Linked DNA regions of Homo sapiens. The protein of the gene in region 1 purifies or fractionates together with the protein of each later gene. This does not show direct contact. Each region holds a gene or a part of one and is shown in the gene's direction. Other genes may lie near its edges. The genes, in order: REXO4, RBM34, GNL2 and BAZ1B.

What was found.
Region 2: the proteins of REXO4 (region 1) and RBM34 purify together in Homo sapiens (co-immunoprecipitation; 3 studies listed by BioGRID and IntAct, with this or other methods). This does not show direct contact.
Region 3: the proteins of REXO4 (region 1) and GNL2 purify together in Homo sapiens (affinity purification with mass spectrometry; 2 studies listed by BioGRID and IntAct, with this or other methods). This does not show direct contact.
Region 4: the proteins of REXO4 (region 1) and BAZ1B purify together in Homo sapiens (affinity purification with mass spectrometry; 2 studies listed by BioGRID and IntAct, with this or other methods). This does not show direct contact.

Annotation. Positions count from the first base shown.
Region 1 is NC_000009.12:133,407,985-133,415,010, reverse strand, and holds part of REXO4 (RNA exonuclease 4), read left to right. Parts: coding exon 1-346; intron 347-366; exon of another isoform or gene 367-674; intron 675-2,089; coding exon 2,090-2,233; intron 2,234-2,518; coding exon 2,519-2,712; intron 2,713-3,937; coding exon 3,938-4,026; intron 4,027-6,168; coding exon 6,169-6,243; intron 6,244-7,026.
Region 2 is NC_000001.11:235,137,246-235,144,271, reverse strand, and holds part of RBM34 (RNA-binding protein 34), read left to right. Parts: intron 1-6,097; coding exon 6,098-6,181; intron 6,182-6,331; coding exon 6,332-6,395; intron 6,396-7,026.
Region 3 is NC_000001.11:37,585,913-37,592,938, reverse strand, and holds part of GNL2 (nucleolar GTP-binding protein 2), read left to right. Parts: intron 1-132; coding exon 133-227; intron 228-2,093; coding exon 2,094-2,233; intron 2,234-3,686; exon of another isoform or gene 3,687-3,979; intron 3,980-5,443; coding exon 5,444-5,628; intron 5,629-7,026. UniProt on the Homo sapiens protein: GTPase that associates with pre-60S ribosomal subunits in the nucleolus and is required for their nuclear export and maturation.
Region 4 is NC_000007.14:73,512,272-73,519,297, reverse strand, and holds part of BAZ1B (tyrosine-protein kinase BAZ1B), read left to right. Parts: intron 1-7,026. UniProt on the Homo sapiens protein: Atypical tyrosine-protein kinase that plays a central role in chromatin remodeling and acts as a transcription regulator. Involved in DNA damage response by phosphorylating 'Tyr-142' of histone H2AX (H2AXY142ph).

The DNA of each region.
Region 1 (7,026 bases):
GGCTGCTGAAACAAAAATCTCAGGCCCCAGAAAAGCCTCTTGTCATCTCTCAGATGGGTTCCAAAAAGAAGCCCAAAATTATCCAGCAAAACAAAAAAGAGACCTCGCCTCAAGTGAAGGGAGAGGAGATGCCGGCAGGAAAAGACCAGGAGGCCAGCAGGGGCTCTGTTCCTTCAGGTTCCAAGATGGACAGGAGGGCGCCAGTACCTCGCACCAAGGCCAGTGGAACAGAGCACAATAAGAAAGGAACCAAGGAAAGGACAAATGGTGATATTGTTCCAGAACGAGGGGACATCGAGCATAAGAAGCGGAAAGCTAAGGAGGCAGCCCCAGCCCCACCCACCGAGTAAGTATGGGCCACCTCACCACTGAGAACCGAGGCACAGCGACTTCACCAAGGCCTGTCTCCTTATGGAGGCTGGTGGCCTCACCGCAGTCTCTCCATCACTTTACCCTGATGTCGTCTGTTCCTTTGTTTACTCGCTGTTACTTGTTTTCCCCTAGAGTGTGCGCATGATAAGGCAGGGCCTGCTTCTTCCGAGCGTTGAGCAGAGCTCAGCATTTAGTGGGTGCCAGTACACGTGTGTGGAAGGAAAGCGTGCTGAAGCCAGAAAGACCCAAGTATGAGGCCTGTCCCTGCTTCTCGCCAGTTGGGTGGTTTGGGGCAAGTTTCTGACGTCCTCTGTGCCTTGTGGTAGTCATGGTGGCATCATAAGGAGATTGTGAGGTTGGCACTCTTGGCTCAGTGCCTGGTGATTACTTCAACCCTGTGATGGAGCCAGGTGTGGTGGCTGTTGCCTGTGATCCCAGCTCCTTGGGAGGCCAAGGTGGGAGGATCACTTGATCCCAGGAGGTTGAGGCTGCAGTGAGCTGTGATTGCACTACTGCCTCCAGCCTGGGTGACGGAGCAAGACTCTCAAAAAAACAAGTGAAAAGAATAAACCCTGTGCTGGCCACCCACGTGGGGTGGACCGGGAGTCAGTGGCCTTCTCTGAATGGTTCAGCTGGAGGTGACGTGTTCATAAGTTACAGCTGGCTTCATGTTGCCTGGGTGTTCAGGACACAGTCGCTGATGGCTGAGGAATGAGCCATTTGGGGGCCTCCCTGTGTTGTGCTAGGCAGGCTGTCTGGGATAGAGTTCAGTGAGGTGGGCCTGCTCCTCCCTCTTGAGGCTTATTGTCAAGTGCAGTAGACAGACTGTAAACTGCAGCTGTTGATTAAGTGTGGTCAGGATAAATCTAGTGAGGAGAAGGTATTGGGCGCCTGGAACAAGAGGGACGTGTCCATTCAGTGGGGCCAGGAATGGCTTTTCTAAGGAAATGACATTTAACCTTAGCCCAAGAGACAGATTCCCCAGGCAGGTGTTACGTGCCTGTGTGAGCTTCCTAGTACGGAGGGCAAGGGGTTCTGTGTTTCCATCTTACAGGCATTCTGTCTGTCTGTTTCCTAAGTGTTCAATAATGAACGTGTTACCTTCATAATTAAAATGTTAGCACTCATTACACTTGGGTGGTGGGTTATGTGTTTCTGTTTTATATTCTTTGTGTTTGTCTGTGTTCCTAAATCTTGAATAATGAGTGTATTTTCTAATTAAAAAGAAAAGAGATGAGGCCAGGTGCTGTGACTCACACCTGTAATCCCAGCTCTTTGGGAGGCCGAGGCAGGTGGATCACTTGAGGTCAGGAGTTCAAGACCAGCCTGGCCAACATGACGAAACCCCGTATCTACTGAAAATACAAAAAATTAGCCAGGCGTGGCAGTGGGCGCCTGTAAAATCCCAGCTACTAGGGAGGCTGAGACAAGAGAATCACTTGAACCTGGGAGGCAAAGGTTGCAGTGAGCCAAGATCATGCCACTGCACTCCAGGTTGGGTGACCCAGTGAGACTCCATCTCAAAAAAAAAAGGAAAATGCCAAGATGATCAAAATAGCAGAAGCAGCAGGGCCAGCAGTCGGGGTGTCTGGGGCCAGCCTGTGGGAGAGGCAGGCTGTGCCATCGCTCCACTCACCTGCACAGTCAGCCCCACAGCCCCACCCCACCAGTTGCACTAGGGTCTTCTGGTGATCAGCCTGTTATCTTTGCCTTTTAGGGAAGACATCTGGTTTGACGACGTGGACCCAGCGGATATCGAAGCTGCCATAGGTCCAGAGGCGGCCAAGATAGCGAGGAAACAGTTGGGTCAGAGCGAGGGCAGCGTCAGCCTCAGCCTCGTGAAAGAGCAGGCCTTCGGCGGGTACGCTGGTCTCAGGGAGTGGGGTCTGCTGGGGATGCTTAGCCGTGGAGGGCGGGGCTTCTTCAAGGAAGAGGATGCTTTCCTCTCCCTGAGGTGAATGAGGCAAGCACCTCCCAGGGTCCTGCTAAGAACCAGGACCACACAGAGCTTGTCACGTGGGTGCAAATGAGTGAGGGGCAGAGAGCTTTTCTCTGCTGACACTTAGTCCATGGATCCCTGGGGCTCTGACCTGGAGCCCTGTGGCCTGCCGTGTTTATTAAACTACAGCCTTTGGTTACCCTTCAGCCTGACAAGAGCCTTAGCCTTGGACTGTGAGATGGTGGGCGTGGGCCCTAAGGGGGAGGAGAGCATGGCCGCCCGTGTGTCCATCGTGAACCAGTATGGGAAGTGCGTTTATGACAAGTACGTCAAACCAACCGAGCCCGTGACGGACTATAGGACAGCGGTCAGTGGGATTCGGCCTGAGAACCTCAAGCAGGGTATGTCATCCACAGCTCAGGAACTTAGAAGGGAAAGTAGTAACTGGATTCGTTTTCTCCCTTTTGTTCCCTTTTCTGTCTGAGACCACTCACTGCAGCTGGTTTTGATGCGTCTTGTCTCCTTTTGGGGCGATGGGTTTTAAAATACAAAAGGCATCCTTAGACGGCTTTACACCCATTTATGCCTTGCACTTCATTGCCTCCTGTCCGCTGACTTCAAGACCAGGCCAGTAGCTGGGCACGGTGGCTCATGCCTGTAGTCCCAGCTACTCAGGAGGCTGAGGAGGGAGGATTGCTTGAACCCAGGAGTTCAAGTCCAGCCTGGACAACATAGCGAGACCTCATTTCTAAAAAAAATTATTATTTTTTTTTGAGATGGAGTTTTGCTCTTGTTGCCCAGGCTGAAGTGCAATGGCACAATCTGGGCTCACTGCAACCTCCGCCTCCTGGGTTCAAGCGATTCTCCTGCCTCAGCCTCCCGAGTAGCTGGGATTACAGGCATATGCCACCACACCCGACTAATTTTGTATTTTAAGTAGAGACAGGGTTTCTCCACATTGGTCAGGCTGGTCTTGAACTCCCGAACTCAGGTGATCCGCCTGCCTCCGCCTCCCAAAGTGCTGGAATTACAGGCATGACCCACTGCACCTGGCCTTCTAAAAAATATTTTTAAAAAATTAGCTGGTCCCACTTGGCTCGGGCCACCCTTGGTCTAATCACCCCTGTTCGGGGGGTACAAGTGGGGTTGGTGGTGGGGTGGTCCCCAGAAGCAGGCAAGGCTGCCTCTGGAGCCCAGGGCCTAGGGCAACACATCTCTACCCATTTTTGTGGGGGCAGTTTTGTTTTTATTTCCATTTGGGAAATTGTCAAGTAAATCATGAGGTTGAATAGGCAGAACCACGCTGCCAGGCGGCTCTAAAAGTTTCTCAGTGCCTACACTCAACATATGCTCTCCTCCAGCCATGAGCCGACTTTGCAGACTGTGTGGAGCACTTTATTCCTCTCCTCAGAGGTGGTTCTCGCAGCCACCCCTGCCAGGGGCCCACAAGGCACTTCTCCCAGGGGGGTGGGTGGATGTGGTGGCTTCGAGTCACCCTCCGTAGTGGCATTGCAGGCCTGACCATTTGTCTTAGGTCTGACCAGGGGTAGGAGCGGGGCTGCCTCCTCACAGAATGATGGTGATGTGTGTGTTGCAAAAAACCGCTTCTTTGTGTTGATTTTCCAGGAGAAGAGCTTGAAGTTGTTCAGAAGGAAGTGGCAGAGATGCTGAAGGGCAGAATTCTAGTGGGGCACGCTCTGCATAATGACCTAAAGGTACTGGGCTCTCTCCTGGGGACTCAGCCTGCCCCTGCTCCGTGGGTGTTACACTCACGCCCTTGCTGTGTTGGGGAGTTTTAACAATGTGTGGGTTTGTGCTCTATGTTGGGAATACTTTGGTAATAATATCAGATACCGCGTGCTGAGTTCTTACTGTGTTTTAGGAGCCATGCCAGGCTCTTGTTTTGAGAGCCCCCAGCGAAACTGGGGTACCCATACCAGAGCAGCTGGCAACCCCGCCCTAATGAGAAATGAAGGTGCTGATACCCCTTTTACCTGGAGGAAGGCCTAATGTCCAGTTGTCCCATCCGTGACCAGGGTCCCTCCACAGGAAACAAGTTTATCCTGGCAGATGCCCTGTGGCCCATGTTCAGGTTACGCTTGCCTAACCATCACCCTGGCCCTGGGAGCTTGCCTTTGCCTTCTTTCTGGCGTCCCGAGGAAAATCCCGCCTGGGGCAGCCCCTGGTTCTTCAGATGGAAAGTGCAAATTCAGACACCACCACCGTGGGAAACAAGTTCAAAGACATATACAGACCCTGGGCAGGGAAGGCGTCATGGGTGGGGAGGGCAGCCTGCCATCTCCTGGTCACCCGAGGCAGGAATGAAGAGTCAGGCAGAGCGAGTACGTGTGTATTTACAGGAGAACAGGGTGGGGGTCACTTTGAGTTTATGGGCAAATGCCTGGATGTTGGTTTAAAGGACACAGTGGGAACAGCGGGGAGGCCAGTCTGCTAGATGGGAGAGACACTTAAGTTGTCACCTCTGCCCACCGGCTTGAAGCACTTGGGTGTGGTGAGGAACTTGAAGCCGTTCAGAAGGAAGTGACAGAGATGCTAATGTTCAGGCAGCAGCCTTTGCTATGGTGCTCCCGTGACGGCACTGTAGAGATCCCTTGAATCCATTGAAGATGCTGGAGGTGTTCATGCTTGTTTACAGAGGGTGAAACTGAGGTGAGAACCCCCCGGGCAGTGTCCTCACAGAAAGGTCTTCTGTGTGCTCCTGCTGTACCCCCTCAGAGACTGCTGCCGTGGGGACTCGTCCTTCCCTCCTGACTCTGACTCCATCCCTGGCACCTTGCGCAGCACATGTTCAAGTCTTTCTTGAAGATGATGCTAAGGACCAGACACAGTGGCTTATGCCTGTAATCGCAGCTTTTTGGGAGGCTGAGGCTGGAGGATTGCTTGAGGCCGGGAGTTAGAGACCAGCCTGAGTAACATAGGGGAGACCCCATCTCTATAAAAAATTTTAAAATTAGCCAGGTGTGGTGGCGTGTGCCTGTTGTCCCAGCTACTCAGGAGACTGGGGTAGGAGGATCAGTTGAGCCCAGGAGGTTAAGGCTGCAGTGAGCCATGATTACCCTATAGCACTGCAGCCCAGGTGACAGAGTGAGATCCTATCAAAAAACAAAACAAAACAAAAAATTGCATGCTAAGATTGCAAGATGAGCTGTTAAAATGTGTTATTTGCAACTTCCTGATGTGTAGAACCAACTCAAAATACAAGTATAATATAGGAATAAGTTGGTTGCTGGTTAACTGTTGACTGTTTTTCTCCTACTTCCTTGATTTCAAGATTTTGTTTTTATTGTCTCTGACTGTTGGGCATCAGCTTAAGTCAGTGCAATAAATTTCCTTCTGGAGTTGAAATTCATATCAGTGCCTTGTTTCCATGTGTGTGTGACACACTTGGATTCCCTACAAGATGTTACTTGCAGGGCAGCCGCGTTGGCTCACACCTGTAATCCCAGCACTTTGGGAGGCCGAGGCGGGTGGATCACCTGAGGTCAGGAGTTCGAGACCAGCCTGGCCAACATGGCAAAACCCTGTCTCTACTAAAAAATACAAAAATTAGCCAGGCATGGTGGCGGGCACTTGTAATCCCAGCTACTCGGGAGGCTGAGGCAGGAGAATCACTTGAAACCTGGGGTCGGAGGTTGCAGTCAGCAAAGATTGAGCCACTGCATTCCAGCCTGGGTGACAGAGCAAGACTCCGTCACACACACACACACACACACACACACACACACACACACACACACACACACAAAGATGTTACTTGCAAAAGGTGGCGGGGGGAGGGGGTTCTGCTACTACAAACCAAAAATGAAAATGATTATCATTATATTTTATTTTTCTAGGTACTATTTCTTGATCATCCAAAAAAGAAGATTCGGGACACACAGAAATATAAACCTTTCAAGAGTCAAGTAAAGGTACTTAGAATGAGTGTGACTCAAGATACTGTATTTCTGTTTTGCTGGTCACTTCATTGTTTCTGGTCACTGGTGGCTGACTTGTTGGTTAAAGGGTTTTTGTTTTTTCTTTTAACCTTTAAAACTAGAAGGAATGTTTAAAAATAGAGTTCTGCTAATTGCTGACCTTAAAAATGATTGCAACGGAGGGCAAGTTATTTCCACTCTAACCTCTGAAACAGGGTCACTGACTAAGGGCCTGGTACCACTGTCGTATCTGCTCTAGAGGGTGCCAAGGGCAGAGCCGTTCTTCATCCTTTTTTTTTTTTTTAGACAGGGTCTTGCTCTGTCACCCAGGCTGGAGTGCAATGGCATAATCTTGGCTCACTGTAACTGCCACCTCCCAGGCTCAGGCAATCCTTCCACCTTAGCCTCTGAAGTAGCTGGGACTGCAGGCATATGCCACCACCCCTGGCTAATTTTTTTATTTTTATTTTTTTAGAGATAGGGTCTTGCTGTGTTGCCCTGGCTATTCTCAAACTCCTGGGTTCAAGTGATCTGCCCTCGTTGGCCTCCTAAGTGCTGAGATTACAGGTGTGAACCACCATGCCTGGCCAGAGCTGTCCCTCTTGAAATAAGCAGGGAGGCCTCAAGATGGGAGATGGGGATGCTGACTCCTCCCCTGGCCCTCTCCTTTTATTGGCTGATAGGGGTGTATCACCAGCCCATCATGCTATAAATGGCAGCTGGTGGCTACCACCCTAAGTGCCATGAGCACCTCTCCACTGAGAGGCAAACTGTAGG
Region 2 (7,026 bases), on another chromosome or scaffold:
TATAAGTAGAGTCATCATACAGGATATACTCTTGTCTAATTTGCTCAGCATAATGATTTTGAGGTTTGTTTTTTTGTGGGGGAGGGTTGGTGGAGGGGAACAGTGTCTTCTGCTGTTGCCCAGGCTGGAGTTCAGTGGCACGATAATGGCTCACGGCAGCCTTATCACCTGGGCTCAAGCAGTCCTTCTGCCTCAGCCTCCTAAATACCTGGGACTACAGGTGCTCGCCACCACACCCGGCTGATTTTTAAGTTTTTAGTAGAGCCAAGGTGTCACTAATGCCCAGACTGGTCCTGAACTCCTGAGCTCAAGTAGCCCTCCTGCCTTTGCCTCCCAAAGTGTTGCAATTACAGGCTTGAGCCACCGTGCCTGTCTGAGATTTGTTCTTATTATTGCAATGCATTGGTAATTAATTCGTTTTTATTGCTCAGTAGTATTCCCTTGTATGACAGTATTTGTTTATCCATTCACCTGTTTATTGTGTTGTGTTGTATTTATTGTGATGTATTGTACTGTATTGTACTGTATTGTATTGTGATGGAGTCTTGCTCTGTCGCTCAGGCTGGAGTGCAGTGGTACCATCTCGGCTAATTGCAACCTCTACCTCCCGGGTTCAAGTGATTTTCATGCCTCAGCCTCCCAAGCAGCTGGGATTACAGACACATACCACCATGCCCAGCTAATTTTTTCATACTTTTAGTAGAGATGGGGCTTTGCCATGTTGGCCAGGCTGGTCTAAAACTCCTGACCTCAGGTGATCCGCCCGCCTCAGACTGCCAAAGTGCTGGGATTATAGGCGTGAGCCATCGCACCCGGCCCCATTCACCAGTTTATGAACATTCAGGTTATTTCAGCCTTTGGCTATTATACATAAAACTGCTAAAAAAAATTTGGGTACGGATCATTTCTTTTGAGAAACTGCCTGGTCGGATTGCCAGATCTTACGGTATATTGTAACTTTCTAAGAAGCTGCAAAATTGTTTTCCAAAGTGTTTGTACCATTTTACATTCCTACCAGCTATCGATGAGAATGTCAGTTGCTTCACATCCTCACCAGCACTTGGCATTGTCATTTAATTTTAGACATTCTGAAGGTTTGTCAACCACAGTGACTAAAAATGTTAGGCATCTTATGTGCTTACTATTTGTATCTATTCTTTGGTGAAATGTTGGTACAAAAATTTTGCCCATTTTTTAGTGACTTTTAAATTATTTTTATATGGTTGTAAGGAGTTATTTATATATTCTAGATATAACACCTTTTCCTGCTATGTGTGTTTCAGATATTTTGCTCCAGTTTGTGGCTGGCTTTTTTAGAGGTGTCTTTTTTTTTTTTTTTTTTTTTGAGATGGATCCTTGCTCTGTCACCAGGCTGGAGTGCAGTGGTGCGATCCCAGCTCACTGCAACCTCCGCCTCCCGGGTTCAACTGATTCTCCTGCCTCAGCCTCTCAGGTAGCTGGGATTACAAGCGTGCGCCACCACACTCGGGTCATTTTTGTATTTTTAGTAGAGACGGGGTTTCACCATGTTGGCCAGGCTGGTTTCGAACTCCTGACCTCAGATGATCCACCCACCTCTGCCTCCCAAAGTGCTAGGGTTACAAGCATGAGCCACCACACACGCCCAGAGGTGTCTCTTAAAGATTGAAAGTTTTAAGTTTTATTGAAGATCTCATTTAGAGAGTGCTGTTGTTGGCCAGGCACAGTGGCTCACGCCTATAATCCATTACTTTGGGAGGTCAAGGTGGGCGGATCACCTGAGGTCAGGATTTTAAGACCAGCCTGGCCAACGTGGTGAAACCCCGTCTCTACTAAAAATACAAAAATTAGCCAGGAGTGGTGGCGTGCGCCTGTAATCCCAGCTATTCTGGAGGCTGAAGCAGGAGAATCACTTGAACATGGGAGTTAGAGGTTGCAGTGAGCCGAGATCATGCCATTGCACTCCAGCCTGGACTGCAAGAGAGAAACTCCGTCTCAAAATAAAAAAAGTGCTATTGCTTGTCAGTTGGCTTGGTAGTCTGGTGGGAGTGGGCGCAGCAGGGTCTCTGCTGTCTTGTCTTAGTGTTTCCGTGTCTCAGGAGTGCACCTGATCAGGGCTTTTTTCCCGGGGCAGCCAAGCTGTGCCAAATGCCTTGTACCTTTAGTGGGGATTATGCAGAGGATGTTTCCCACCTCTCCCCCGGTAGCTGGACTCCTCCCTTCCTCCGGCTGTAGGGGTCTTCTCTGTGCCCTGGAGTGACAGGGTTTGCTATCCCTCCCCTAGCAGCTTAGCCTTCTCCTCCATCAAGAGAATGTGTCCGGAATTGGTGGGTTCTTGGTCTCACTGACTTCAAGAATGAAGCCGCGGACCCTCGCGGTGAGTGTTACAGCTCTTAAGGTGGTGCGTCGGGAGTCTGTTCCTTCTGATGTTCGGATTTGTTCGGAGTTTCTTCCTTCTGGTGGGTTCGTGGTCTCACTGGCTCAGGAGTAAAGCTGCAGACCTTCGCAGTGAGTGTTACAGCTCTTAAGGCAGCGCGTCTGGAGTTGTTCGTTCCTCCCGGTGGCCTCGTGGTCTCGCTGGCTTCAGGAGTGAAGCTGCAGATCTTTGCGGTGAGTGTTACAGCTCATAAAAGCAGCGTGGACCCAAAGAGTGAGCAGTAGCAAGATTTATTGCAAAGAGTGAAAGGACAAAGCTTCCACAGTGTGGAAGGGGACCCGAGTGGCTTGCCACTGCTGGCTAGGGCAGCCTGCTTTTATTCTCTTATCTGGCCCCACCCACATCCTGCTGATTGGTAGAGCCGAGTGGTCTGTTTTGACAGGGTGCTGATTGGTGCATTTACAATCCCTGAGCTAGATACAAAGGTTCTCCATGTCCCCATCAGATTAGTTAGATACAGAGTATCGACACAAAGGTTCTCCAAGGCCCCACCAGAGCAGCTAGATACAGAGTATCGATTGGTGCACTCACAAACCCTGAGCTAAACACAGGGTGCTGATTGGTGTGTTTATAAACCTTGAGCTAGATACAGAGTGCCGATTGGTGTATTTACAACCCCTGAGCTAGACATAAAGGTTGTCCAAGGCCCCACCAGAGCAGCTAGATACAGAGTGTCGATTGGTGCACTCACAAACCTTGAGCTAAACACAGGGTGCCGATTGGTGTGTTTACAAACCTTGAGCTAGATACAGAGTGCCGATTGGTGTATTTACAATCCCTGAGCTAGACATAAAGGTTGTCCAAGGCCCCACCAGAGCAGCTAGATACTGAGTGTCGATTGGTGCACTCACAAACCTTGAGCTAAACACAGGGTGCCGATTGGTGTGTTTACAAACCTTGAGCTAGATACAGAGTGCTGATTGGTGTATTTACAATCCCTGAGCTAGACATAAAAGTTCTCCAAGGTCCCACCAGAGTAGCTAGATATAGAGTGTCGATTGGTGCATTCACAGACCCTGAGCTAGACACAGGGTGCTGATTGGTGTATTTACAATCCCTGAGCTAGACATAAAGGTTGTCCACATCCCCACCAGACTCGGGAGCCCAGCTGGCTTCACCCAGTGGATCCTGCACCGGGGCTGCAGGTGGAGCTGCCTGCCAATCCCATGCCGTGCGCCTGCACTCCCCAGCCCTTTGGTGGTCGATGGGACTGGGCGTCGTGGAGCAGGGGGTGGCGCTCCTCGGGGAGGCTCGGGCCGCACAGGAGCCCATGGAGGGGGTGGGAGGCTCAGGCATAGCGGGCTGCAGGTCCCGAACCCTGCCCTGCGGGAAGGCAGCTAAGGCCCGGTGAGAAATCGAGCGTAGCGCCAGTGGGTTGGCACTGCTGGGGGACCCAGTACATCCTCCGCAGCCACTGGCCCGGGTGCTAAGCCCCTCACTGCCCGGGGCCGGCAGGGCCTGCAGGGCCGGCCGGCTGCTCCGAGTGCGGGGCCCGCCAAGCCCACGCCCACCTGGAACTCCAGCTGGCCCGCAAGCGCCGCGCAGCCCTGGTTCCCACTCGCGCCTCTCCCTCCACACCTCCCTGCAAGCTGAGGGAGCCGGCTCCGGCCTTGGCCAGCCCAGAAACGGGCTCCCACAGCGCAGCGGTGGGCTGAAGGGCTCCTCAAGTGCCGTCAAAGTGGGAGCCCAGGCAGAGGAGGTGCGGAGAGCAAGCGAGGGCTCTGAGGACTGCCAGCACGCTGTCACCTCTCAAGAAGAATCCAGGTGGGGCTTTGTGCCTTTCCCACACTTTGGCCATTCCGTCCTCCAGGCCTGCAGCACCCATAGCTGCGATCTCAGCCTTTCCCAGGGAGTGGAGGTCAGTGGGGCAGATCCTGAGGATGGGCGCACACTCCTGCCTCGGCAGCTTCCAGGACTTCTGTTTCAGGCCCAGCCCACGCTGAGCTCTAGTGTTTTAGTGAGATCATGGCTGGAATCTTTCCTGCTTGTCTGGTGCCCAGCATTTTGCCCCTGTGCTCGGCCATCGTAGAGCCAGAAGAGCCAGTGCTTCCTCTGTCTCTCATTGGAGGAAGCAGGCCTGTCCTTAGCTTCTAGCTGCTGGCTTTCCCCAAGACTTCAGCTCTGTGATGGCTGCAACAAAAGTTATGATGCTGTGGGTTATCTGGTTTCTTCTTAACTGGTAAGAGCAGGAGTGATGCACTTTCTGGCTTTTTACATTCTAGGTGGAAGCGGAACTCCAGCATTTGTTCCTGGGGGTGCACTAGGATGTGTTGGATTTGGATGTTGTCGGCAGCTGTGTGTTGTGTGAAGAGCAGGGCTCTAGAGTCAGCTAGACTTGGTTTCAGTCCTAGGCCAGCCACTTGTTGCCATTTCATCGCAGTCACGTACCTCTTCCAGTCTCAGCTTCCTTATTCATAAAATCAGAAAAAAAACACCGTGTTGGAGATGTGAGATTAAATGAAATACATAAAATGTCTAGCTGAGTGTCTGGTATATATTAGGCATTCAGTAAATCACAGCTGGTTTAATCAATACAAAAGCATTAGTATAGTGTATTATTACAGAATGCCATCAGTCATGTCAGGCACTATTTTCCAGTTCCCTTCTTGATGATACTCATTTGTGTAGTAGCATTTTTCTTACTTCAAAACAGTAGGTTGATGTCTTCAGGGAAAGATCTGTGTTCATTACTAGGTCCTTTTTGCTAACTCCTCACATCCAAATTATATCACCATTTTGCAAACCTAGTGACTTAATGAGTTTAGGCATTTAGTAGCAGCAGCTGCAGTCATTGACAAAAGGGTAAAAACCAGTCATAACATGACTCCCTGGAAAGAACACAACACCCACCAGCAGTCGCGACAAAGGGGTCATGTCTGAGTCTGATCCATCCTTTTGATGCAGCTGCCAGTTTACAAGAAATATAGAGGACAAAGGTTTGTGTTAAACTACTTGATGAGCTTGCAGTCACAAAATCCAGGCTGTGGGGAATTCTGCAGGCCAAATAGTGAGAGATAAAGAGATACAGAGAAAACTCTGTAAATTAAACAAGATTCAAAAGACATATCAGGTCAAAAGTATAGACAAGACCAAAGTATGATGTCTAAGAATAGACACTTGGTTGATAAAACCACAAAGATGTGCAGGGAAGTAGTTCCTATAAAAATGGGAATGGTGGTTGCCTTTGGAGGGAAGGAGGGGCTGCAACGGGAAAGGGCCACAGAGAGGCTTCTGAGTGGGCTACAAGGCACGTTGAGCTGTTGTTAATTCACTCAGCTATACGTAGTTTGTGCACTCTTCTATATGGGTGTTTCACAGTAAAGAGGAAAACTCACGTCTTTCACAACTGTTTATATGTGTGTTAGATACGGACTGCAGCTAAGATGTCAGTTTTTAGTTCTTGTATGGTTCTCAGGGATTCATATACATGGTTCATCTGTTTTCTCATGGTTATGATTCCTAAGAAAGTATGGGTTGTGTCTCCACTAATATCTTTATAAGTTGTGTGTTATTTTTTGAGTTATTACTAAATATTTATTCAAAGAGATGAAATGTCCACCCAGGAATTCTTGTCATGTGTGTTAAGAGTTGAAAACAGCTAGATTTTTTTCTAGTGACTTTGAGGCTAAGAAATTTACCTTGTCTCTCTTTTCTTTCTTTCTTTTTTTTTTTTTGGTGTAGACGTAAAATTCATCCTGATCAGAAAAATATTAATGCCTATGTTGTGTTTAAGGAGGAGAGTGCTGCCACGCAAGCATTGAAAAGGTAATTTTATCCCTTAGGTTTGAACAGAATAATTGTCCTATAAGTATGTATGAGTACTTTTTTTATTCTTTGGTTTCACTTTAGCATAGATGTTTTAGTAATCGAGTGCTCATTTTTAACAACCATTTTCCCTTTGTATTTATAATACAGAAATGGGGCCCAGATTGCAGATGGATTTCGTATTAGAGTTGATCTCGCATCTGAGACCTCATCTGTAAGTAGTACTTGATTTGTTTAAAGAACGAGAGCTTTGTAGAGAGAAATGTTTCCTTCCAGGCTTTTCCTGGAAGGGGACTGGAATCAGCAATGTGAGGGAAGCGCAGAAGGAAACAGCCTATGTCCTCTGTGGTTACAGAGTTGATGGCAAGAGAGGCACAAGGACCGAGGTCAACATTCCCTTCAAAAACGTAGTCCTGGCTGGGCACAATGGCTCATGCCTGTAATCCTAACATTTTGGGAGGCCAAGGCGGGAGGATCACTTGAGCCCAGGAGTTAAGAGCAGCCTGAGCAATGTAGCAAGACCCTGCCTTTACAAAAAAAAAAAAAAAAATTAGTCAAGTGTGTGATGCATGCCGACAGTCCCAGCTACTCAGAAGGCTGAGGTGGGAGCACCACCTGAGCCCAGGAGTTTGAGGCTGCAGTGAGCTGTAGTCGTGCCACTGCATTCTAGCCTGGGCAACAGAGGGCGACCCTGTTTCTTAAAAAGAAACAAAAACATAGTCCTCTTCAAATAAGCATAATTAGGTCAGAAGGTACATTAGACATCATCTGGTCTAACACATTATAGACCGAGGTCTAGAAAGTTCAATTATTCATTAGACAGTTTTTAGTACACACTCTGTCAG
Region 3 (7,026 bases), on another chromosome or scaffold:
TGGAATTGGTATTTCATGATCATTTAAAACCAAAGTAAGAAGTCCTTTTGATGGAAAATATATTCTGTAAATCAAACTTCGCTGTTGCCATTTTTCTGTTGTCAACCAATATCTGTTCTTTCCTCAATTTAGGAACAGTCGTGGTAAAATAATTAAACCCCTGCAATATCAATCAACGGTGGCTTCTGGCACAGTGGCAAGAGTAGAGCCAAATATTAAATGGTTTGGTGAGTATTATCCCCTGTTACTTTGCTCTACAAAATATATGCTGAGTGGAAACGGCTAGGATGTTTAAATGTCTAAACAGCAGGAGTTTTTGGTGAGTGAAACCGGCAAGGATTATCTGAGAAAGGGATAAGAAGAATTACTGGGAAAAGTAGTGGTGGTCAATTTAATAAATAACTTCTTTTTGAAGAGCGCTCACCATTAGTAATTGTAATTGAACCCTCTTAAGCAGATAAGACCATCCTTAATGACTAGCATTCACAGACCTTAGAATGCTCATCTTAATCTTTTCTGCTTTCCTAAAGAGATACTGTTGGAGAGGTGGCCTTGTAGGTTTTGTGCATATATCCTTCAGGGTAAGTGCATTAGCCCGAAGTTCCTCTGAAATACTTCTTAATGGGGTTTTTATTTGAACTTGGGTGACAATTAAAGGGTCTCACTGTTGAACTGTCCAACAGTGAATAGAGTATCTTCAGTCTCAGGGTGATCACAGCTTCTTCCTTGGAAAACTCCCTGTCTCATTTCAGTCTGGGCTCTTAACTTTGCCCTTAGCCACTGGTAAATGTATGGGCACTTTAGATGATCAGACCCCAGTGTTTGCTTGGTGTTTGACCTCTGTCCTTGGGGGCAGGTGGCAGCTATCTTTGAGTCTCTTATACTTTCAGTGGGATACTTCCTAAGAACTGCAACACAGAAAGGTGTCAAAACTCTGCAGAGAAGCATTTAGCATGGCTGCTGGGTACTGTGACTCGATTAGACTGCCTGGGTTTGAATTCTAGTTCTGTCATTTATGTGCCAGTGGGCAAGTTATTAAGTCTGTCTGTTCATCAGTTTTCTCATCCCTAACATGAGAATAAGATGAAACCTATCTCATAAGACTGTCATGGTAATCAAATGAGTAAATACAGGCAGGGCGCAGTGGCTCACGCCTGTAATCCCAGCACTTTGGGAGGCCAAGGCTGGTGAATCACTTGAGGTCAGGCATTCGAGACCAGCCTGGCCAACACAGTGAAACCCCCATCTCTACTAAATATACAAAAATTAGCCAGGTGTTGTGGTGGGCACCTGTAATCCCAGCTACTTGGGAGGCTGGGGCAGGAGAATCCCTTGAGCCCAGGAGGCAGAGGTTGCAGTGAGCTGAGATTGTGCCACTGCACTCCAGCCTGGGTGACAGAGTGAGACTCCATCTCAAAAAAAAAAAAAAAAAAAGAGTAAATATATATAAAGTGCTTAGAATAGCGCCTAGCAAATAGTGAGTATAATATAAGCATTACTTGCTACCGTCATTACCACCTTGCTGTTTTGCATTTATGCCGCAGCATGCTGTTTAATTGAATGCTTTTCAGGGTCTCCCTCACAAGATGTTTTCCAGGTGGTGGTGCAGGGCTCTATCTTGTTCCCTTGCATGGACTCATTGGTTAATAGTCCCTTTGAATCCTCATAACCCTAAAAGTGGCTAACTATGACTCAAATTTCAGTGTTTCAAGATTCTCTGTCTATACTGACTGATCAGCTGTGATTGGCTCCAGGTTTCTCTGCTAGATCTAGCAGGTAGTAGGACATTTGACAGATCTCAGTTCCATTCCACGCTATTTATTTCTCAGTTTCATTTAGTTAGGAAACTGGACTTGGAAAACTATTGAAACCCTTTGTGGGTCTGGATTTGTGGAATAGTTCATAGTGTGCAAGTGCGGGAGAGGCAGTTTTTTGGTTTTTTCCTCTTTTAAGTTTGAAAACAGCTCCAAGGGATGGATGGATCAGGTGCTTGGGTAAGTGAGGGTAATTTAAAATCTTGCCTTTCACCGTGTCAGTGGAAGATGGATGCGCAAATATTAACTAAGTGGCAACATTCTTTATTTGTAAAACAGGAAACACACGTGTGATTAAGCAGTCATCATTACAAAAATTTCAAGAGGAAATGGATACAGTTATGAAGGATCCATACAAAGTTGTCATGAAGCAAAGCAAGTTACCAATGTCTCTTCTCCATGATCGAATCCGGCCTCATGTAAGATGTAGGATATCCCTGGTGATGGAATTTCCTGGGCAAACTCCATGCAGATCCCTCTCTAACATATTTGTCTTTTGTTTTTCCTTAGAAAATAGTGACTTTAATGTAGCAATGATGAACTTTCTAAGACCTCTCTTTTCACCTTTTCATGTTTAGTATGAGGTGCAGTAGTGTAGTGGATCAAAGCACAGGTTTTGGAGTTGAGACCTGAATTTTAATCCTTGCTCTATCCCTTCCTGTGCCCTTAGTTGGGTTTCTCCATGAACTTTAACTTCTTTGCCTTGAAAGTATAGATAGGTCGGACACAGTGGCTCACGCCTGTAATCCCAGCACTTGGGAGGCTCAGGCAGGCGGATCACCTGAGGTCAGGAGTTTGAGACCAACCTGACCAACAAGAAGAAACCCTGTCTCTACTAAAAATACAAAATTAGCCAGGCGTGGTGGTGCATACCTGTAATCTCAGCTACTCAGGAGAGGCTGAGGCAGGAGAATCGCTTGAACCTGGGAGGCAGAGATTGCAGTGAGCCAAGATCGTGCCATTGCACTCCAGCCTGGGCAACAGGAGCGAAACTCCGTCTAAAAAAAACAGAAAGTATAGATAACCGACCTCCTTGGGTTATTGGCTACAGATGAAGCATCTGTAAAGCACTTGGCCCATAGTGAGCACATAGCACACCACCTAATAAGAGCTAAATTGATAACAGCTATTAGTAATATTATTTATTTTGGTAGGCAAACTTGTTTTAAGTGGTAATTCCATCAAACTTTGGGACAGCGTAGAATTAGGATTGAGTTGGTAGAACTTTGGTGTTGCGTACGTTCAGCTTTTGTGAGATCCTTGAGATTTTTTCTCAGCTGAAGGAAGGGGTGCTGGTCACATTGGTTGTCAATTGCTAAAATTTGAAGTGCAGTAAGGATTCAATCTGGGTTGAGTGGAATGAGTTTCACACAGAACAAAGAAAGAATCTGTTGTTTGTCTGCTTATTTTTACTTGCATTGAATAATAAATTCCCAGAAATGTAGCCAGTACGTAAGCTTCAGTTCCAGTATGAGGAGGGGAGAAAAACATTGACATGCATACGTGGGTTAAATAGTTCAGGCTGGGCGCGGTGGCTCACGCCTGAATCCCAGCACTTTGGGAAGCCAAGGCGGGTGGATCACAAGGTCAGGAGATTGAGACCATCCTGGCTAACACGTGAAATCCCGTCTCTACTAAAAATACAAAAAAAAATTAGCCGGGCGTGGTGGCGGGCACCTGTAGTCCCAGCTACTCAGGAGGCTGAGGCAGGAGAATGATATGAACCCGGGAGGCAGAGCTTGCAGTGAGCCGAGATTGCGCCACTGCGTGCCAGCCCAGGCGACAGAGCAAGACTCCGTCTCAAATAAATAAATAAAAATAAAATAGTTCAAAGAAAACTGTTTACTTGCAGAACAAAATAAAAACCAAGGCCTGGTTATTGCCTCAGGTTTTGTCAGTTATGTTTTGTTTTATGATGCACTAGAAGAATGGCACCTATTAGTAGAATGACTGTTTTCTTTCAGGGGAACACATGAGTGTAATTCATGAACCACAGACAAGTTGCTCATTTCCCTTGTTCTCTTTGTCTGTTCTCCCTAAAGCCATCTTTTAAGCAACTATTGAATCCTGTTTATGAGAAGAACAGAGAGGTTCTGTGATGGATTTATTGCTTCGTTGCCTGTACTTGTTGTCAGTGCTTCTAAAATTCAGTGTTTAAATATCTGGTATGTAGAATGAAGGGTCTGCAGTTGCACCAGTCAGCTTCTTTGTTGATGCAGAAAGCTGCTCAGAGTAATTGATGAGTTTTCTGCTTTGGCCTTGAAAAACCTTAACTATTTTATTTTAGTGTAATATCTATTACTTATAAAATCTAATTCTGAGATTATTTTGCACAGTGGAGTTAGATCAGATACGCATATTCATCTATATGTGTTTTAGAACTACTGTATTTCTGTAGCAATACAGTAAGAGTACTGTAACTTTGCATATGTGCTTTATATACTGTATATTACTGTGTTATACTTACTAATGTGTGTTATACTTACTAATGTGTAGGTTTATAGACATAAAGCCTTGGGTACTGTAACTTACAGGTTAAGAGATTTTGAAGGATAATTTTGGTCACACTTGATTTTACCCAGTGACATTAGACCCTATTTCCCATGTAAAATGAGCTGCTTCTGTTTGGAGATGCTCCCGAGTGGAACGTAGTGACTAAAACTAAACTGAGTTGTGGGTTAGGGCATCTGAGAAAATGATAATAGTTTAAGGATCTTTAGAAGTTGGAAGAGGGGATCTGTTAAAGTTCAGAAACCACAGGGGCTGCTGCATCATCCTCACAGCTTTTGGTAGTGGTGCTTACGGAGGAGCTTGTACTAGGGGGAAAAGGGTGATTTTTTTTTTTTTAATTGTCTGCAGGCTGTTAACATTCCGTTATGTGATAGATCCCAACTCTTTTATCTTGCTTCAGAAATTCCTATGCCTGTAACTCCTTTACAGGCACATCAAGTTCTAGTTAGTATCAGGTTCCTTTTATCACATCTAAACTATTATTTTGGACTTTTGCTAGATGTTTTTCATCCGAAGACTTGCCATGTGCATTTAATAAAAACGTTACCTAAATTAGGGAAAATGTTATCTGAAACTAAAATGCATCTTACAAAACAAGCAATTCCTTTTAGCCATGAAAGAAATTAACTTCCAAGAAAAAGTTGGCATTTACAGTTGGTTTAAAAAAAACTCACAAATTTGAGTATGATTGTCCTTGACAAAATCTATGAATTTGGCGAATTTTATGCTCTTGTTTGAAAGCTATAAAAAATGGTGGAAAAGATTAATTTTCACCACTGTAGCCTTAATTACATTTGACTGAAATTTATGATAAATGAAATAAAGCAGAGTTTTTGGCAAGTTTTTGTACAACTATTCATATTTACTTTGATTATTTGTATTACTTTTGTATTTCTCCAAGGAAGCTTACAGAACTTCAGAATAAGGGAACCAGTGTTTGTGCCATTTCAACAAGTAATTCTGATTTGAAACCAGACTGAAACCATGTCTTACAGATTTGGGTATGGGTTGAACCTTGGAAAAATAAAATCAGAAAGTCTTTCCTAGGTGGGTGTTGAGCTTTTTGCTTTTTCTCAGTGCTTTTCTTAGTTTTACCTGTTATTCTCCTTTCTCTTCAGAACTTGAAGGTGCACATTCTTGATACTGAAAGTTTTGAAACTACATTTGGCCCTAAGTCACAGAGGAAACGACCAAACTTATTTGCAAGTGATATGCAGTCTCTTATCGAAAATGCTGAAATGTCCACTGAGAGCTATGACCAGGGCAAGGATCGTGATTTGGTAACTGAAGACACTGGTGTGAGGTACATTTTTTTTTTTGCTTCTTTGTTTTTGTTTTTTTTTTTTTGAGATGGAGTCTTGCTTTGTCGCCCAGGCTGGAATGCAGTGGTGCGATCTTGGCCCACTGCAACCTCCGCTTCCCAGGTTCAAGCAATTCTCCTGCCTCAGCCTTTTGAGTAGCTGGGACTACAGGTGGATGCCTCCATGCCTGGCTAATTTTTTGTATTTTAGTAGAGACAAGGTTTCACCGTGTTGCCCAGGCTAGTCTTGAACTCGTGAGCTCAGGCAATCCACACTCCTTGGCCTCCCAAAATGCTAGGATTACAGGTGTGAGCCACTGCACCCGGTCGAGGTACAGTTTTGAAGTTCATGCAAATCTCATCATTTGCTCTTCTGCAACAAAACATTTTCTTTCAACTTATTTTGCCTGTGTGAAGCTCAGTGCTTTAACTCATATATGGAGTTATCTTCTTCCCTCAGACTGGAGACGTTGGTGAAATTGGGGCTAGACTGAAGATGTCTAAGGTGGCTTGATTGACAAAGGTCTCTCCTCATCCCCAAAATAAATAACATTTTTTCATTTATAATAGTAATACACCAGTCATAGACAAATTAGGAAATATAGTTAAGTTGGAAAATACAACAAAAAGAACATAACTCATGATCCCATTGCTGATATTAAGCATTGTTAATGCCTCTGTGAATATCGGGGCTTCCTTAACTGGAGGTCTCTGAGTTAATGGATGGCCTGTAAGGTTTCTTTGACTCTTTGAAGAAAATGTGGAAAATTTGTGAGCTTACATAAAGGCAGTAGGGTTTTGTGTTTTTTGTTTTTGTTTTGGGGAGGAGGAGGAGGAGAGGAAGTATCTATAATTTTAATCATATTCTCGTAGGGATCCATACTCAAAAGGAGAATCAGTCACCGGCTGGCTGCAGTGGCTTACCTGTAATACTAGTTTTTTGGGAGGCTGAGGCAGGAAGATCGCTTGAGCACAGGAGTTTGAGACCAGCCTGGGCAACATAGTGAGACCTTGTCTCTACAAAAAATAAAAAATTGGCTGGGCATAGAGTCCCAGCTACTCAGAAGGCTGAGGTGGGAGGATCACTGGAGCCCAGGAATTTGAGGCTGCAGTAAGCTGTGATTATTAGGAATATATTTCTATGTCAGTACATAATCAACAATAATATAATATTTATTGTCAGAGTAGTATTTTGTTTGTTATGGCCAGTCTCATTGTTGGACATTTATACTGTGTATAGTTTTTCCTTATGGTGAACAACACAAGGATGAAGCATCAATGTGACCGCATCTTTTTCATCCTTAATTATTCCCCAAAGATAAGTTCTTACGGAGCAAAGCATGATATCAAAAGGTATGCATGCTTTTTGATAGGCAGCTGCCACATTGCTCTTGAGAAAGG
Region 4 (7,026 bases), on another chromosome or scaffold:
TCAACTTATATTTACAATTATGTTTTTAATGGGACTTGATATTTTAATTTTCTTTTAATACCTACCTTTTGATTGCATGTATCACAGAACTTTGTGTGATATTTTACTGACTTAAAGCTGTATGTTGGTATGTTCTTGGAGTATATTGTGAATCTTCATTAAACTTAGTGGAAGTTGTGAGTAATGCACACATTTAATGACTAGGTGTTAAATATTGGTGATTATGTTGATTGTACTGTAGCTTTGTATGGTACATTACTTCCTAAGGTATTCCCACAGGCAGGACACTAGATCTTGGAAAACACTAACTTTATCAGAATCAGTTCTTGATGTGACACTGACTGTATTTAAGTCAAGATAGGTTTTAGGCAGGAATTGGAGCTACAAGCAGCGTGTTGTAGATGAGTATTTTTGTTGTGTTACTTCAACTGTCATAGTTTCTAAAGCTTAGAAATAACTAGTTCACGACCTTTGTAGCATCATTATGTGAGAATTTATTGAGGGTATGATAATGAGGGGCTTATTCATACTGTTAATCTGGCTCTACACAAGTGTGACTAGAGCATGTTTTTGTTTTGTTTTAAGAGATGGAATCTTGCTGTGTTGCCCAGGCTGGAGTGCAGCAGCTGTTCACAGACGAGGTGGTAGCACAGGGAAGCCTTGAACCGGACTCAAGAGATCCTCCTGCCTCAGCCTCCAGAGTAGCTGGGACTACAGGCACGCACTACTGCGTCTGCCTTAGAGCATGTGTTAAGAGTTGAGTAGCTATAGATGGAGTTAAGTTGTAGTTGTAAGATAGAGTTTTACTGGACATTTGGAATACTGAGCTCTTACGTTGATTTTTATTTTTATTTTTATTTTTATTTATTTATTTATTTATTTTTTGAGACGGAGTCTCGCTCTGTCGCCCAGGCTGGAGTGCAGTGGCGCGATCTAGGCTCACTGCAAGCTCCGCCTCCCGGGTTCACGCCATTTTCCTGCCTCAGCCTCCTGAGTAGCTGGGACTACAGGCGCCCGCCACCACGCCTGGCTAATTTTTTTTTTTTTTTTTGGTATTTTTAGTAGAGATGGGGTTTCATTGTGTTAGCCAGGATTGTCTTGATCTCCTGACCTTATGATCCGCCCGCCTCGGCCTCCCATAGTTCTGGGATTACAGACGTGAGCCACTGCGCCCAGCCTGATTTTTATACATTCTTTAAAGTAATACGTTATGCCATATTAGACTTGTTTTTAACTTAAAGACAGTCTGGAGTCTTTAAGAGAAAAAATCGAGTAAGAGAGAATATCGAGTAAAAAGCAAATCTTGAGTTGGCTCACTCTTTGCCATCTTCTGACTTAGAGCACTTAGGTTAGTTACAGTTATGCTTGTTTGACTCTATACTTATCTGGGCCACATCTTTTCAGGATATCAAGTACTTAATTGAAAGAAACAATCCCTGCAAGACTGAAGAGAACAAAGCAGCAGCATATTGTGATAAGGAGGTAGCTGATGGCAAAGTAGATACATAATGAGATAGTCTAGGATTCGAAAATATCTTATCTTTTATAGCTTACACAACCTTTGGAGAATTGCTTTGACATTTTGTCTGCAATTATATGTGCAGCAGTTGCTGGAACATAAAAACCTCAATTGGCATTTGCTCTGAGAGGTTATTTGAGAGTGAGTGACTTATTTTGGTAACCTAAAATCTGAAATAGGATTTAGAGGCAGCTGACTCAATATCCTTCTGATGGGCCTTTTTGCCTTTTCATTTTCATTTTTTTTCTTGCTTTCCCTTTTTTTCTTATTCATTTATTTATTGAGACAGGGTCTCACTCTGTTGCCCAGGCTGGAGTGCAGTGATGTGTGATCATGGCTTACTGCAGCCTCCAACTTCCCAGGCTCAAGTGATTCTTCCCACTCAGCCTGCTGAGTAGCTATAACCATAGGTGCACACCACCACGCCTAATTTTTGTATGTTTTGTAGAGACGAGACGAGGTCTTGCAAAGTTGCCCCGGCTGGTCTTGGATTTCTAGCCTCAAGTGATCCTCCCGCTTCAGCCTCCCAAAGTGCTGGAATTACAGGTATGAGCCACTGTGTGTGGCCTTACTTTCTCTCTTTTTTTTTTGTTTTTGAGCTGGGTTATTGCTGTGTCGCCCAGACTGGAGTGCAGTGGTGCGATCTTGGTTCACTACAACCTCCGCCTCCTGGGTTCAAGCAATTCTCCTGCCTCAGACTCCCAAGCAACTGGGATTACAGGCACCCACCACCACGCCTGGCTAATTTTTTGTATTTTTAGTAGAGATGGGGTTTTACCACGTTGGCCAGGCTGGTCTCGAACTCCTGACCTCAAGTTGATCCACCGGCCTCAGCCTCCCAAAGTGCTGGGATTACAGGCGTGAGCCACCATGCCCAGCCTTGCTTTCTCTTAATATAATTACCAGAACAGTTACCAGAACAGTTACACAAACTTAAAATAGCCGTTGTTAGGGGTTGTAGGAAATTCTTTTACAGTTGTTTTTTTTTTTTTTTTTTTTTTTTTTTGAGACAGTCACAGTCTGTCGCCCAGGCTGGAGTGCAATGGTGCAATCTTGGCTCACTGCAACCTCCGCCTCCCAACTTCGAGCAATTCTCCTGCCTCAGCCTCCCAAGTAGCTGGGATTACAGGCGCCTGCCACCATGCCTGGCTATTTTTTGTATTTTTAGTAGTTTCACCATGTTGGCTAGGCTGGTCTCGAATTCCTGACCTCAGTGATCCACCCCCTCGGCCTCCCACAGTGCTGGGATTACAGACGTGAGCCACCGCGCCTGGCCCCAGATTTTATAATCAGTTTGACTAGGCAATTAATTTTAAGTTAATACTGTCAGAGGACATTTTCTGAGATGTATACTTCAGGTTTCAGTGCTGTCCAACAAAAGTATAATGTAAGCCATATGTAATTTAAAATTTTGTAGTACTCTCATATTAAAAAAAGAAAAAAATGGTGGGAAAAAAGAAAACAGCTGGATGTGGTGGTGTGCGCCTGTAGTCCCAGCTACTCAGGAGGCCAAAGCTGGAGGATTCCTTAAACCCAGAAGCTTGAGACCAGACAAGGCAATGTAGTGAGACCACCATCTCCAAAAACATAAATAAATAATAAAAAAGAAAACCACATTTTTCTCTTTGCTTTTGAGTGGAGTCTCGCTCTGTAGCCCAGGCTGGAGTACAGTGGTGCCATCTCGGCTCACTGCAACCTCCACCTCCTGGGTTCAAGTGATTCTCCTGCCTCAGCCTCCCGAGTAGCTGGGACTACAGGCACGTGCACCACACCTGGCTCCTTTTTTGCACTTTTTAAGTAGAGACGGGGTTTCACCGTGTTGGCCAGGCTAGTCTCGAACACCTGGCCTCAAGTGATCCGTTCCCCTCTGCCTCCCAAAGTGCTGGGATTACAGGCGTGAGCCACCACACCCTTCCACATTTTTCTCATTTTAAGACCAAGGCTGACACCTGGTATGGTTGTTCATGCCAGCACTTTGGGAGGCTGAGGCAGGTGAATTGCTTGAGCCCAGGAATTTGAGGTCAGCCTGGACAACAGTGAATGAAACCCTGTCTCTACAAAAAAAATAGAAAAATTAGCTGGACATGCTGGCGTTTGCCTGTGGTCCCAATTACTTGGGAGGCTGAGGTGGGAGGATCACTTGAGTCCAGGAGGCAAAGGTTGCAGTGAAGCGAGATGGTGCTATTGCACTCCAGCTTGGGTGACAGAGCAAGACCCTGCTTCAAAAAAAAAAAAAAAAAAAAAAAAGGAACAAGGCTGGAGGGGCAGACCCTGTGTGTGACATGTCTTGCTTGCTAGTTTGCTAGTGGCACAAAGAAAGAGCTAGAAGACATCATGACTTTAAGCCTCTTCCGGGAAGTGACATATATTACATCTGCTCACATCTATTGGTCGAAACCAGTCACGGGGTCAAGCTTGATGTTAATGAAGAGGGGAGGTACATTCCTCTTCAGGGACCTTGTAGACAAGCCACATGGCAGTGGGTGGAGATGTAAAAATCCTCTTATGGAAAGGAGGTGAATAGTTAGAAACTAATACAATCTATCATATTTGAAGGTTCAATGAATGTTTTCTGGGAAAAGTTATTTTTGAGATCTAAAGGATGATTAGAATTTAGACGAATAATAGAGGACTGTATATTCTTGGCAGAGAAGGTGTGATGAGTTCGTCGTGATTGTGTGAGTTTGGAGGTTTTTTGTTTTTTTTTGAGACAGATTCTCACTCTGTCATCCAGGGTGGAGTACAGCGGTGTGATCTTGGCTCACTGCAACCTCCGCCTTCCTCATTCAAGCAGTTCTCTGCCTCAGCCTCCCGAGTAGCTGGGATTACAGGCGCCCGCCACCATGCGTGGCTAGTTTTTTAGTAGAGACAGGGTTTCACCATCTTGGCCAGGCTGGTCTTGAACTCCTAACCTCGTGATCCACCCACTTCAGCCTCCCAAAGTGCTGGGATTACAGGCGTGACCCACCATGCCCGGGCTAATCTTCTTTTTTTAGACAGTCTCCCTCTGTTGCTCTCCATCACAGCTCACTGCAACCTCCACCTCCTGGGCTCAAGTGATCCTCCCACCTCAGATCCCTGAGTAGCTGGAACTACAGGCCTGTGCCACCACATTCAACTAATTTTTTTTTAATAGAGATGGGGTTTTGCTATGTTGCCCAGGCTGCTCTTGAACTCCTGGGCTTGAGCGATGTTCGTGCCTGGGCCTCATAAACTGCCACTATGCAGTTTTTTTTTTTTTTTTTGAGACTGAGTTTCACTCTTGTTGCCCAGGCTACAGTGCAATGGCATGATCTCAGCTCACTGCGACCTCCGTCTCCAAGGTTCAAGCAGTTCTCCTGCATCAGCCTCCCGAGTAGCTGGGATTACAGCCGCACGCCACCACGCCTGGCTAATTTTTTGTATTTTTAGTAGAGACGGGGGTTTCACCATGTTGGCCACGCTGGTCTCGAACTCCTGACCTCAGGTGATCCACCTGCCTTGGCCTCCCAAAATGCCAGGATTATAGGCATGAGCCACTGTGCCTGGCCGGCCCCTACTTTTTTTTGTTTTGTTTTTTTCTGGCCCCTGCTTTTTAAAGTAACAACTCTAGGTTGAACATCCCAAATCCATAAATCAGAAATGCTCCAAAATCTGAAAGTTTTTGAGCCCCAACATGATCGTCAAAGGAAGAGCTCATTGGAGCATTTTGGATATTTGGATTTGGGATGCTGAACTAGTAAGTATAATGCAAATACTCCAAAATCTGAAAGAAATTCAAAATCCAAAATACTCCCGGTTCTAAGCATTTTGGATAAGGGATCCTCAACCTGTAATAATAAAAACTTACTGTTCTCTCTTTAAGACATATTTGTTAATGTATTTCTCTTACATTCTCTCTGATGACACAGTGAGTTTTTTTTTTTCTTTTAATAGTTTTTTGTAAAGTCGCTATGTTCAGGCTGGTTTTGAACCCCTGGGCTCAAGATCCCCCCACTTTGTCCTCCCAAATGCTGGGATTGCATGTGTAAGCTACCATGCCTGTTGGAGCTTCTTAAATATGGCTAAATAATGTGTTAGAATGTTATCAAGCTTTTTGAAAGCTTAAATAAGTCCACTTACTGATTCCTCCTCTGTCCTTATTTTACTACCCATCCCTTCCACTCCCCTAGTTCAGTAGACAAAAATAAGACAAATCCGTCTTGGGATAATGTCCTCTGGAAGCCGTTCCGTTGCTCTTCTCTGGGTATAAGTTTGAAAATTTTTCGGTGATTGGATTTACATATCTGTATATGGAAGTCTGACTCAGGTTTTTACTCAAACATTCTATATATTTTGTTTAATCACTTAGATATTAGCACCACCCCTGTAAGGAAAATGGATTTATTACTCAGTTTTAGCAGATCTGGGGAAAGATCCACAATGAGCAAAGGTGCTTATACTATTGCATAAAGTTACTATTTTGGATTACCTGTGGGTTTGTTCTTGTTTGCGTTTTTGCTGATCATAACCTTGGAAAACCAAGCATCTATATTTATTAAACATGCGGCTGGGCGTGGTGGCTCACACCTGTAATCCCATAACTTTGGGAGATTGAGGCAGGAGGACTGTTTGAGCCCAGGAGTTCAAGACCAACCTGGGCAATGTGGTGAGACCCTGACTCTGCAAAGATAAAAAATGTAGGTGGGCATGGTGGTGTGCACCTGTAGTCCTAGCTACTCAGGAGGCTGAGGCCCAGGATTGCTTGACCCCAGGAGGTCAAGGCTACAGTGAGCCATGATCCCACCACTGCACTTCAGCCTGGGTGACAGAGTGAGACCCTGTGTCAAAAATAAATACATAAATAGATAAAAATGAGCTAGATGCTGCAGTGTAAGTCTGTAATCCCAGCTATTCAGGAGGCTAAGGTAGGAGGATCTCTTGAGCTCAGGAGATACAGGCCAGCCTTGTTTCCAAAAAACAAAAATTAGAATATTTGTTTATTTGTTAGATAGTATTGTAGAGGAAACTGTTTAAATACTTTTATTTCAACCACTATAAAATGTGTCACTTGGAATATACAGGTATTGTTCACTAACTTTCTACTTATGTCAGTTGATTTTCTTACATAGCATCTGTTGCTGTGCTTAAAAGTAAATTAGTTACTTGCCGTTTGAATTTGGAAGTGGCTGGCTGATGGTGAATTCCAGTTGGTTTTGTGTGGAAAGTTGCCATATTTACACTACCAACTTGATGTTTTTCTTTCCCTCGTCTCCCTCACGAAGACTGTCTAAACGGCTAGTAAATGATCTTCTGAATCTCAGTATTATTGGAGACATCATAGAGACTGGATAAATATTATATCAAAAGTACTTTCCGGAATACTTCTAAGTATTTTATGAAATTTATTTTTTAAACCAGGGTAGCCAATCTTTTGGCCATATTGGAAGAAGAATTGTCTCGGGCCACACATAAAATACACTAACACTAAAAACAGTTGATCAGCTAAAAAAAAAAAAAATCACACAAAAAACTCATAATGTTTTAAG